2 linked regions of the Homo sapiens genome follow. The protein of the gene in region 2 interacts with the protein of the main gene of each other region in a biochemical or structural test. Each region holds a gene or a part of one and is shown on either strand. Other genes may lie near its edges. The genes, in order: NID1 and LACRT.

Evidence for each region.
Region 1: the proteins of LACRT (region 2) and NID1 form a complex in vitro, tested with the Homo sapiens proteins (one study listed by BioGRID).

What each region holds. Positions count from the first base shown.
Region 1 is NC_000001.11:236,062,250-236,066,661, forward strand, and holds the start of NID1 (nidogen-1 precursor), read right to left. Parts: upstream 2,842-4,412; 5' UTR 2,831-2,841; coding exon 2,606-2,830; intron 1-2,605. UniProt on the Homo sapiens protein: Sulfated glycoprotein widely distributed in basement membranes and tightly associated with laminin. Also binds to collagen IV and perlecan. It probably has a role in cell-extracellular matrix interactions.
Region 2 is NC_000012.12:54,632,040-54,636,297, reverse strand, and holds the start of LACRT (extracellular glycoprotein lacritin precursor), read left to right. Parts: upstream 1-1,402; 5' UTR 1,403-1,456; coding exon 1,457-1,514; intron 1,515-3,064; coding exon 3,065-3,118; intron 3,119-3,916; coding exon 3,917-4,057; intron 4,058-4,258. UniProt on the Homo sapiens protein: Modulates secretion by lacrimal acinar cells.

The sequences.
Region 1 (4,412 bases), on a different chromosome or scaffold from region 2:
GGTCTCCCTCCTTCTTTTTCCCCACCATGCCATTTATTTGTTGAAGAGAATGATAATCTTTTAAAGTTAAATCGTGTCAGCCATCTACTTAGAAATCTCTAATGGCCGGGCATGGTGGCTCATGCCTGTAATCCCAACACTTTGGGAGGCCAAGGCGGGCGGATCACCTGAGGTCAGGAGTTAGAGACCAGCCTGACCAACATGGAGAAACCCCGCCTCTACTAAAAATACAAAATTAGCCAGGCATGGTGGTGCGCGCCTGTAATCCCAGCTACTCGGGAGGCTGAGGCAGGAGAATCTCTTGAACCTGGGAGGCGGAGGTTGTGGTGAGCTAAGATTGAGCCACTGTACTCTAGCCTGGGCAACAGAGCAAGACTCTGTCTCAAAAAAAAAAAAAAAAAAAAAAAGAATAACCAAAAACTGATATTTAGCATTTCCTTTAATTATGAATGCAGGCAACAAAGCAGTCACTAATAGAAGTCACAGATATTTTCATATCACATCATAGTTGCTGCATGTGTCTCAGAATATTGCTCATGATCTTCAAAGTTCAATCGTTACCTGAACTGCCCTTGGATCCACTGCTACACCTTGTTATTTAATGTTGTTAAAAGTAAGCATATAGGCCAGGCGTGGTGGCCCACACCTGTAATCCCAGCACTTTGGGAGGCGGAGGTGGGTGAATCACGAGGTCAGGAGTTCAAGACCAGCCTGGTCAACATGGTGAAATCCCGTCTATACTAAAAATGCAAAAATTAGCCAGGCATGGTGGTGCGTGCCTATAGTCCCACCTACTCAGGAGGCTGAGGCAGGAAAATCGCTTGAACCTGGGAGGTGGAGGTTACAGTGAGCCAAGATCTCGCCACTGCACTCCAGCTTGTGCAACAGAGTGAGACTTCATCTCAAAAAAAAAAAAAAAAAAAAAAGTAAGCATATATTGGGCCAGGCATGGTGGCTCATGCCTGTAATCCCAGCACTTTGGGAAGCTGAGGTGGGCAGATCATCTGAGGTCAGGAGTTCAAGACTAGCCTGGCCAACATGGTGAAACCATGTCTCTACTTAAAATACAAAAATTAGCCAAGTGTGGTGGCAGTCATCTGTAATCCCAGCTACTCAGGAGGCTGAGGCAGGAGAATCATTTGAACCCAGGAGGTGGAGGTTGCAGTGAGCTGAGATTGTGCCACTAAACTCCAGGCTGGGGGATAGAGAGAGACTCTGTCTCAAAAAAAAAAATAAATAAATAAATAAATAAATAAAGTAAGCATATAAGCATATATAGTACATAAGAGCATAAGATGTGTGTTTTTTTAATATTTTGATCTGTATTTCAACATAATTGCCTTCCTTGGTCATCTTGTGGATTTTATTTTATGCATTTAAAACTTTATACTGCCCAGCATGGTGACACTCGCCTGTGGTCCCAGCTACTCAGGAGGCTGAGGCCAGAGGACAGCTTGAGCCAAGGAGTTGGAGGCTGCAGTGACCCAAGATCGCACCGCTGCACCCAGCCTGGGCAACAGAGCAAGACCTCGTCTCTCTAAAAACTAAAATAAAAGCGTTATACTGAAAAGGGATCCACAGGCTTCACCAGTGTGCAAAGGGGCCAGGGCAGTCAACCAACATGGGGGAGGGCTCTTTGTGGATCCAGACTTGAAGGGCTCATTCGTTTTAGGCAAAGCCTACAAGTTCCACGTGAGTGTTGTCTAAGGCGCAGTGTTCCCAGGCCAGACCGGGAGCACAGCCATTTCACGGGCAGGACAGGCTGCAGCCGCTGCGTTTGCAGTTCCAACCCCCTTCCCCCGGCCAACCCCCCACACTTCTGGAATGCACACAAGCCTTATATGAAATCCACATGGTGGGCGGCCGAGGAAGGCAGCGGCACGAAAGGACTTCAACAAGTTGACAGCGACCCCAGGCCCGGCCAGTCACGGGGAGGATCCAGGGAGCTGTAGGTCATCTGGTCCCGCTCCTCGTTTGGGGCCTCCGTGGTGACAATGCCTGGCCACAGGAAATGGGATCACTGGGAGCCCTGTGTTTCCCGCTCTGGACTCTGGACTCTGAAACGAGCCCAACTGGAAAGCAGCATCACTGCCAAGACACATCCGGAGTCCACACACAAATACAGGAGGCTGCCGGCGAAACTCTCCCGCAGCCACAAGAGTCCCGGGGCCCGCGCGCAGACTGCGATCCAGCTCCGGCTCTTGCCCTGCGGAGGCTCCGCGCGAGAACCTGGCTCCACCCGGGACCGGCCAGGTCCTAGCCCCGAAGGGACTGGACAGCCGAGGGACGCGGACTGACCTCCCTGCGGCGATGCAGCCCACAGCCGCCGGGGAGGAAGCTCCGCGGGGTCCATGGGTGCCGGGGTCACGGCCCGGGGCGCGCGGAGCCACCCAGACCCCGCGACCCGCTCTTCGGATAGCAGGGACCGGGTCGGGAAGACCTTCGCGGACCCTGCAGAGGCGGGAGACCCTGCGCCGTGCCCGGTGCCCCGGCGGCCAGCGGGTCCGGGTCCCCGCCTGCTACGCCCAAGTCCGTCCGGCTCCACGGGCGCCCCCGGCCCGCCGCGCCCTGCAGCCCCTCGCCCGCCCTCCCGGGGCTCACTCACGTAGACTGCGTCGATGTCGGATCTGTCGTAGAAGCGGAGCGCCCCACTCAGCTCCAGGGCAGGAGAGACGAAGTCATCCCCGTCCTCCAGCTCCAGGTCCCCCTGTCCGGGGCCGAAGGGAAAGAGCTCCTGGCGGCTCAGGCAGCCCACAGGCCCCGCCAGCAGCAGCGGCAGCAGCAGCGCCCGCGTCCACGCAGCCCGGATCCGGCTGCTCGAGGCCAACATGTTCCCGAACTGCGGTCCCGCAAACCCGGTCCCGCGGCCAGGACAGAGGAAGGCGGGGATGTAACCGGACGCCCCTGGCAGCCCCCTCTCCTCCCGCCTCCCGGCGTTCCCACCCCGGGAAATAGGGGAGGGGAGCGGAGGGGAGAGCGGAGGGCCCCGCCCCGTCCAGCGGGCGCGCCGCGGGGCAGCCCAATGGCCGCGAGGGGGAGGGCGAGGGGCGAAGCCGAACCTCCCGCCTTGGGCGCCGGTGCCTGCGATTCTCGAAACCAGCCCGACTCCCAGCGAACGGCGCCTCCGGGAGGGGGAGCAGAGCGCGGGACCCGCACCGTGGTCCTCTGATTAGGGTTGGGTCGTGGAGAGCCGGCGACGTGGAAACGCTCCGGATTCAGGAACGGCGCCCACCCCATTGCCGCTCGGCCGCGTCCGGGGTCCAATTCGCTTGACCCTGGTAGGAAGACGGGGTGGGAGCTGGGAATCAGCCAAGGGACAGAGCCACCAACACGTTCATGGGCTCATCCACCCATTCATTGCGCGTTTTTTGAGTGCCTGATCCTGTGCTCCCTATTGTGGAGGTTCGCCAGGAAACGGGGTCTCACCCTCCGAGGCAAAGTCACCAGTGTACAACACAAGCCAGTGTCAGATGGGGGCCCCAAGTCATCAAAGACATTAGGGCTGGAAAAACTGGCGGGGAAAGCTGCAGGTGGGACGGCGGGAATCAACCCGGGTGCTCTGGAAGGAATGGGATGTCATCAGGCGGCAGAGAAGGGAGGTGGAGGACCGAGCTGGGTTTATTCAGGGCACCATCCCCCAGCAGAGGATGTGGGGAGGGACCGGTTGAAGTACAGCCTTGAATCACAAATTTAGGAATTTGAATTCGCTCTGTCACTCGGAGAAGAAACTATTGAAAGTTCTTGACAAAGGGAGATAAGCGATTTAAGTGGTATCCTGAATAATCGGTTGATCGTTACTTTGGCACTAGGGTGAAAGTAGAGACAGGTAAGTTATTAGAGGACCAAGTCTAAAACATTGAAATGAAAGAAGGAGCAAATCCTGATTATAAGATTGGCATTGAAGAGGAGAAGAAACGAAGTTAAAATTGAGTTCAAGGGTTTGCACTTGGAGGACTGGAAAACCAGTACTGCCTTTTGACGTCAGGGAAGAGGATCTGGGACAGCTGGAGTTGGATATGTTTGATGTCAGACCTATCAGCGGTCAACAGGACGTCCCCGTTTCCTGTCAGCAGCTAAAAGTAACGACCTTGAACCTAGTTTATAATAATTTTTCAGAAAACAGCAAATTCTGTATAAAATTTAGGGGGCATGAGTTCTGAACCAGCAAAGACAGGAAGAAAAAGCAAAGGAAACATGCCTTCTAAGCAAAACACTTTTGATTTACTCATGAGAACTTGTCTTTTTCTTTTGAATTCATTCGCCATCAGAAATAACATTTATTACCCATCAGAGACAGCATGTGTTCTACAAGTATTCATTCATTTTGCACTCACAGTAACCCTAGGAAACAGACCTTCCCTGTTTTACAGAGAAGGGGCATAGAGGCCCAGAGAGGTTAAGTCATGTTGCTA
Region 2 (4,258 bases):
CAGACCCTCAGGCAGGTAGCAATTGCCAAGGCTTTAATGTCCCACCCCATTAATTTTATCTTCCTTTATCTCCTGAAAAGATTAATGTTCTAAACCCTGGCACCCAAAACACCCTCATGTTGAAAACTCTTCAATACCCCCTTCTCACACTCATCTTCAGAGCTACCATGAGGCAGAGAAGCCTCCGGAATCAGCCCACATGGGGCTGGGTGAATGCCAACACCAAGCAAGGGGAAAGTCACAAATTGACATCCAGCACCTTATTCTCCACCCTTCAGCCCCTCAACTGACTCCTGCTCCACGGCCCGTTCTATTAATATCTAGCATTTAGCACCAGCCTGGACAAAAACCTACTTGGAAAGATGGTACAAGAACCCCACACAACTCCATAGAACTTCGCTGTCTAAAAAAATGCTTTGCCGTATATTATCCCACTTAATCTCCACCACTATGCTGTACATAGGAGCCACAACTCCTAGACAACAAATAAAAATCCTATCACTTTTCAAATCCTAACATTTTCATATGACAAAGCCAGAACTCAAAATCCAGACCTCTAGAGTCCCAGATCAGGAAAGGAAGAAACGCCAAGTCAAAGAGAAGCTTCTTTAGAATAATCTGCTTTTCTGGATTATTCACACCATGGGTCAGCTCCCCACTTGAAGTCAGAACCAAGCTCCAATTTCAGTGAACCACCATCATGCTTTGACCAGGAGATTCTCTCAGAAATGTGGGGTCCCATTGAGTAGGCCTGAAGACAGAGATTGACAGGCCTATGTGAGCCTGGAGGAGTTCTTTTTAGGGGCTGGATAATGTCAAGAACAGAGAACAACTCCAGAGAAGGCACACACGCCTTCAAACCCATCCCCTCATGGGGAGAAAGCAGCCAGGAACTCAGGCCTCAAGTGTTCTAGGTGTGGTCTCCCAAGGAAACGGGCTCACTTAGTTTGGGGAAACCTTCAAACCCTGCACTGAGTCCTATGTAGACTGGGACAGAAGGTGGACAATGTAATCCCCTGAGCCCTCAACCTCCTCCTGGAGAGATGACAAGATTAAGATTTCTCTACCAGAACCCTCAACAGACACATCCCAGAATCTCCCCAAGTGAAATGTGCTCTACCTACCGTCCCTGAGAGCCCAGGGGTGTGAACCCAGAGGGCAGGTGTGGTGGGGAAGGGAGGAGGGAGAAAGAAAAGGGATGGCTGGGAGTTAGAGAAAGGCTCCTATCCAGGACCTGCCTGCAAGGATCCCAGGTATCAGCCAGCCCAACCTAGCCCTTGTTGACTTAGCAGGTGACAGTTTGGGGAAGAAGGGGAGGAGGATGCGGAAGTCACACCTCTCCAGGCTTGGTTCCCATTGGCCCTTGATATCCTTAAAAGGGCCCAGCAATTTCAGCATCCTTATTCCCCAGACCTTCTGCAGATTCTGTGGTTATACTCACTCCTCATCCCAAAGAATGAAATTTACCACTCTCCTCTTCTTGGCAGCTGTAGCAGGGGCCCTGGTCTATGCTGGTGAGTATGGCCTTTCCTCTGCGCCCCACAAGAGTCCTCCCAGTCCAAGGAGCCCCTCACTCCTGCCTTCACCCCTCTCCTCCTCTCTCAGTGCTATTCTGGTTTCCCTGCCTCTGCAAGTGACTCCTCTCCCAGTTCTCCACACGTGGCCTCTGCACCCCACTGGCCAGAGGAACCCAGAACTCTCTGGCCTCTGCCTGCCCTCCCAGCTCATCTCCTCACACACCATTGTTTACCCACTATGCCTCAGCTACACTGGCTTCTCTGGTGTCCCCTGCATGTAGTTGAGCAGGGTGTCCCCTACACGAGGGTGCCCAGGCAAGGAGTGGTAGAAGCTAAAATCTGGCCGACACTCTACTTGCCAAGCAGTGAGCCTGGCCCCTGGCTGTGTCTCTTAGGAGGAAGGGATGCCTTTTTTTTTTTTTTTTTTTTGAGACCGAGTCTCCCTCTGTTGCCCAGGCTGGAGTGCAGTGGCACGATCTCTGCTCACTGCAACATCCACCTCCTGGGTTCCAGCGATTATCTTGCCTCAGCCTCCTGGGTAGCTGGGACTACAGGCTCATGCCACCTTGCCCAGCTAATTTTGTATTTTTAGTAGAGACGGTGTTTCACCATGTTGGCCAGGTTGGTCTCGAACTCCTGACCTCAGGTGATCCGACTGCCTTGGCCTCCCAAAGTGTTGGAATTACAGGCGTGAGCCACCGTGCCCTGCTGGGATGCCTTTTTTGATCCACAGAAGCACTATTTGGGCCATGATGATCCTGCTGTTCCTTGAACATCAGGATCTTCCTTCTTGTCCTTTCCTCGTCTAGAATGCTTTCCCTCTCCCTGGCCCCTTCCCCCAACCAACTCTAATGTCACCTGGCCAATGATTTTTCATCTAGAAAATCTCAGTTTACATATAATTCCCCAAAAAGGCCTTCCATGCACATGCGGAACAAATCAGATCCATGTGCCCTTCTCGCACCAGGCTGCACGTTCCCTTCCAGCACTGTCACACCAGCCATTAAATAATTTCGTAAAAGGACAGATGTAAGCTCTGTCAGGGCAGGGGTCTTGTCTGCCCTCTTCAGCACTGCACCTCCATCTCTTGGCACAGAGCTTTGCATAAATGTTGTGTTGAAAGAATAAAGGGAATCAAGGCTGGGGTCTCAATCCTGCAAATCGCTCAAATATGGCCCCATAACCCCCACATACTGTCCTCCTCCACCACAGAGGAGGTTGAGCCCCTCTGACCATGGCCAGCTCCATGACAGACACCTCAGGGAAGCCTACCAAGCCAGGGGCCAGTCAGGAGGAAGGCACTGTTCCAAGAGACATTACACTTCTCAGAGGGGAAGTTATTTCAAAAGCCACAGGAGTTAAACATCAGAGAGTGCCCCAGTAGACCCGCTGATATGGTGGAAGGGCATGTCCAACCCAAAGGGAAATTGATCCCCTTCTATCCATGAGCATTCCCAGGAGATAAGCTTTGGGAATGGGAGGGGAGGGTGGCTCGAGTAGGTCCGGTTCGGTCCTTGCTCTCATCTGGCATGTTTCCCCCATTGCAGAAGATGCCTCCTCTGACTCGACGGGTGCTGATCCTGCCCAGGAAGCTGGGACCTGTGAGTCCTCCTCTCCCTGCTGCCCTAGCCCTCGTTGGGAAGGTTTAACAGTTAGGGATGTGAGTGGTGGCTGGGAGAAGAAGCCAGTGGGAGGAGATCTGGATTCTGTGCTTGGTGGTAATGGGGAGGGGCAGGTAATATAATAAAGAAGGTGGCATGGGTTGAAATGGTACAAGGCTAAGGACAAAAGAGGATGACCCAGAGAGGCAAGGACAATAGGGAGCATGGGGAAAAGGTTATTGTGAATAAAAGGGAGAGAAACATGAGGTTAAGTGGTAAGGGCAATGTCTCACATGGCATTAATACCTTCACCTGCAAACACCTCCCATTACTCCCAATTCCTTAGCAAGATAACCATTATCTGGCCTCTAACCTCATTTTCCAACCCCATTTTCCATGACTCTCTTTTATGTCGCACCCACATCAGCTAAATTGAACTTGTTTCCATTCCCCACACATGCCTTCGCCTGACCTCTTACTCACTGCCTGCCCCCAGGGAAGCCCCTTTGGTACATCCTCTCCTGCTAACATCCTGCCTTCAAGATCCAGCTTCTCTATGAAGTGCTCCCCGATTCTCACCATCCCCTAGTCCAAATCCTTCCCCAACCCTGCCCGCTGCATTCCAAGAGACACACAGCATGCAGAAATGCTATCTCCCTTAAGGGGGCAGCGTTTAAGCCATATCACTTCTGTATCCTGGCACCCAGCACACATTAGGTATCCTGGGGCCCTGCAACCCATTCCAAAAGAAACAAACACTTTCACTTTGCTAAAATCCATCAATTTGTGCATTCACAGCTAAGCCTAATGAAGAGATCTCAGGTCCAGCAGAACCAGCTTCACCCCCAGAGACAACCACAACAGCCCAGGAGACTTCGGCGGCAGCAGTTCAGGGGACAGCCAAGGTCACCTCAAGCAGGCAGGAACTAAACCCCCTGAGTAAGTCTCTGTCTCTATGCCAGATCAACAACCTAGAAAAGTCTCTGGCTGCAGGCCCACATCACACCTCCACGCACAGAGATAAGCCTGGTGAGAAGCAGGTAGACTCAAACAGCTGAACACAAAGGCACAAATGGGATTGTGCATTGCACCCACACACAACGTTTTCACAATAGTAGATGTTGCAGCCTGCACAATACA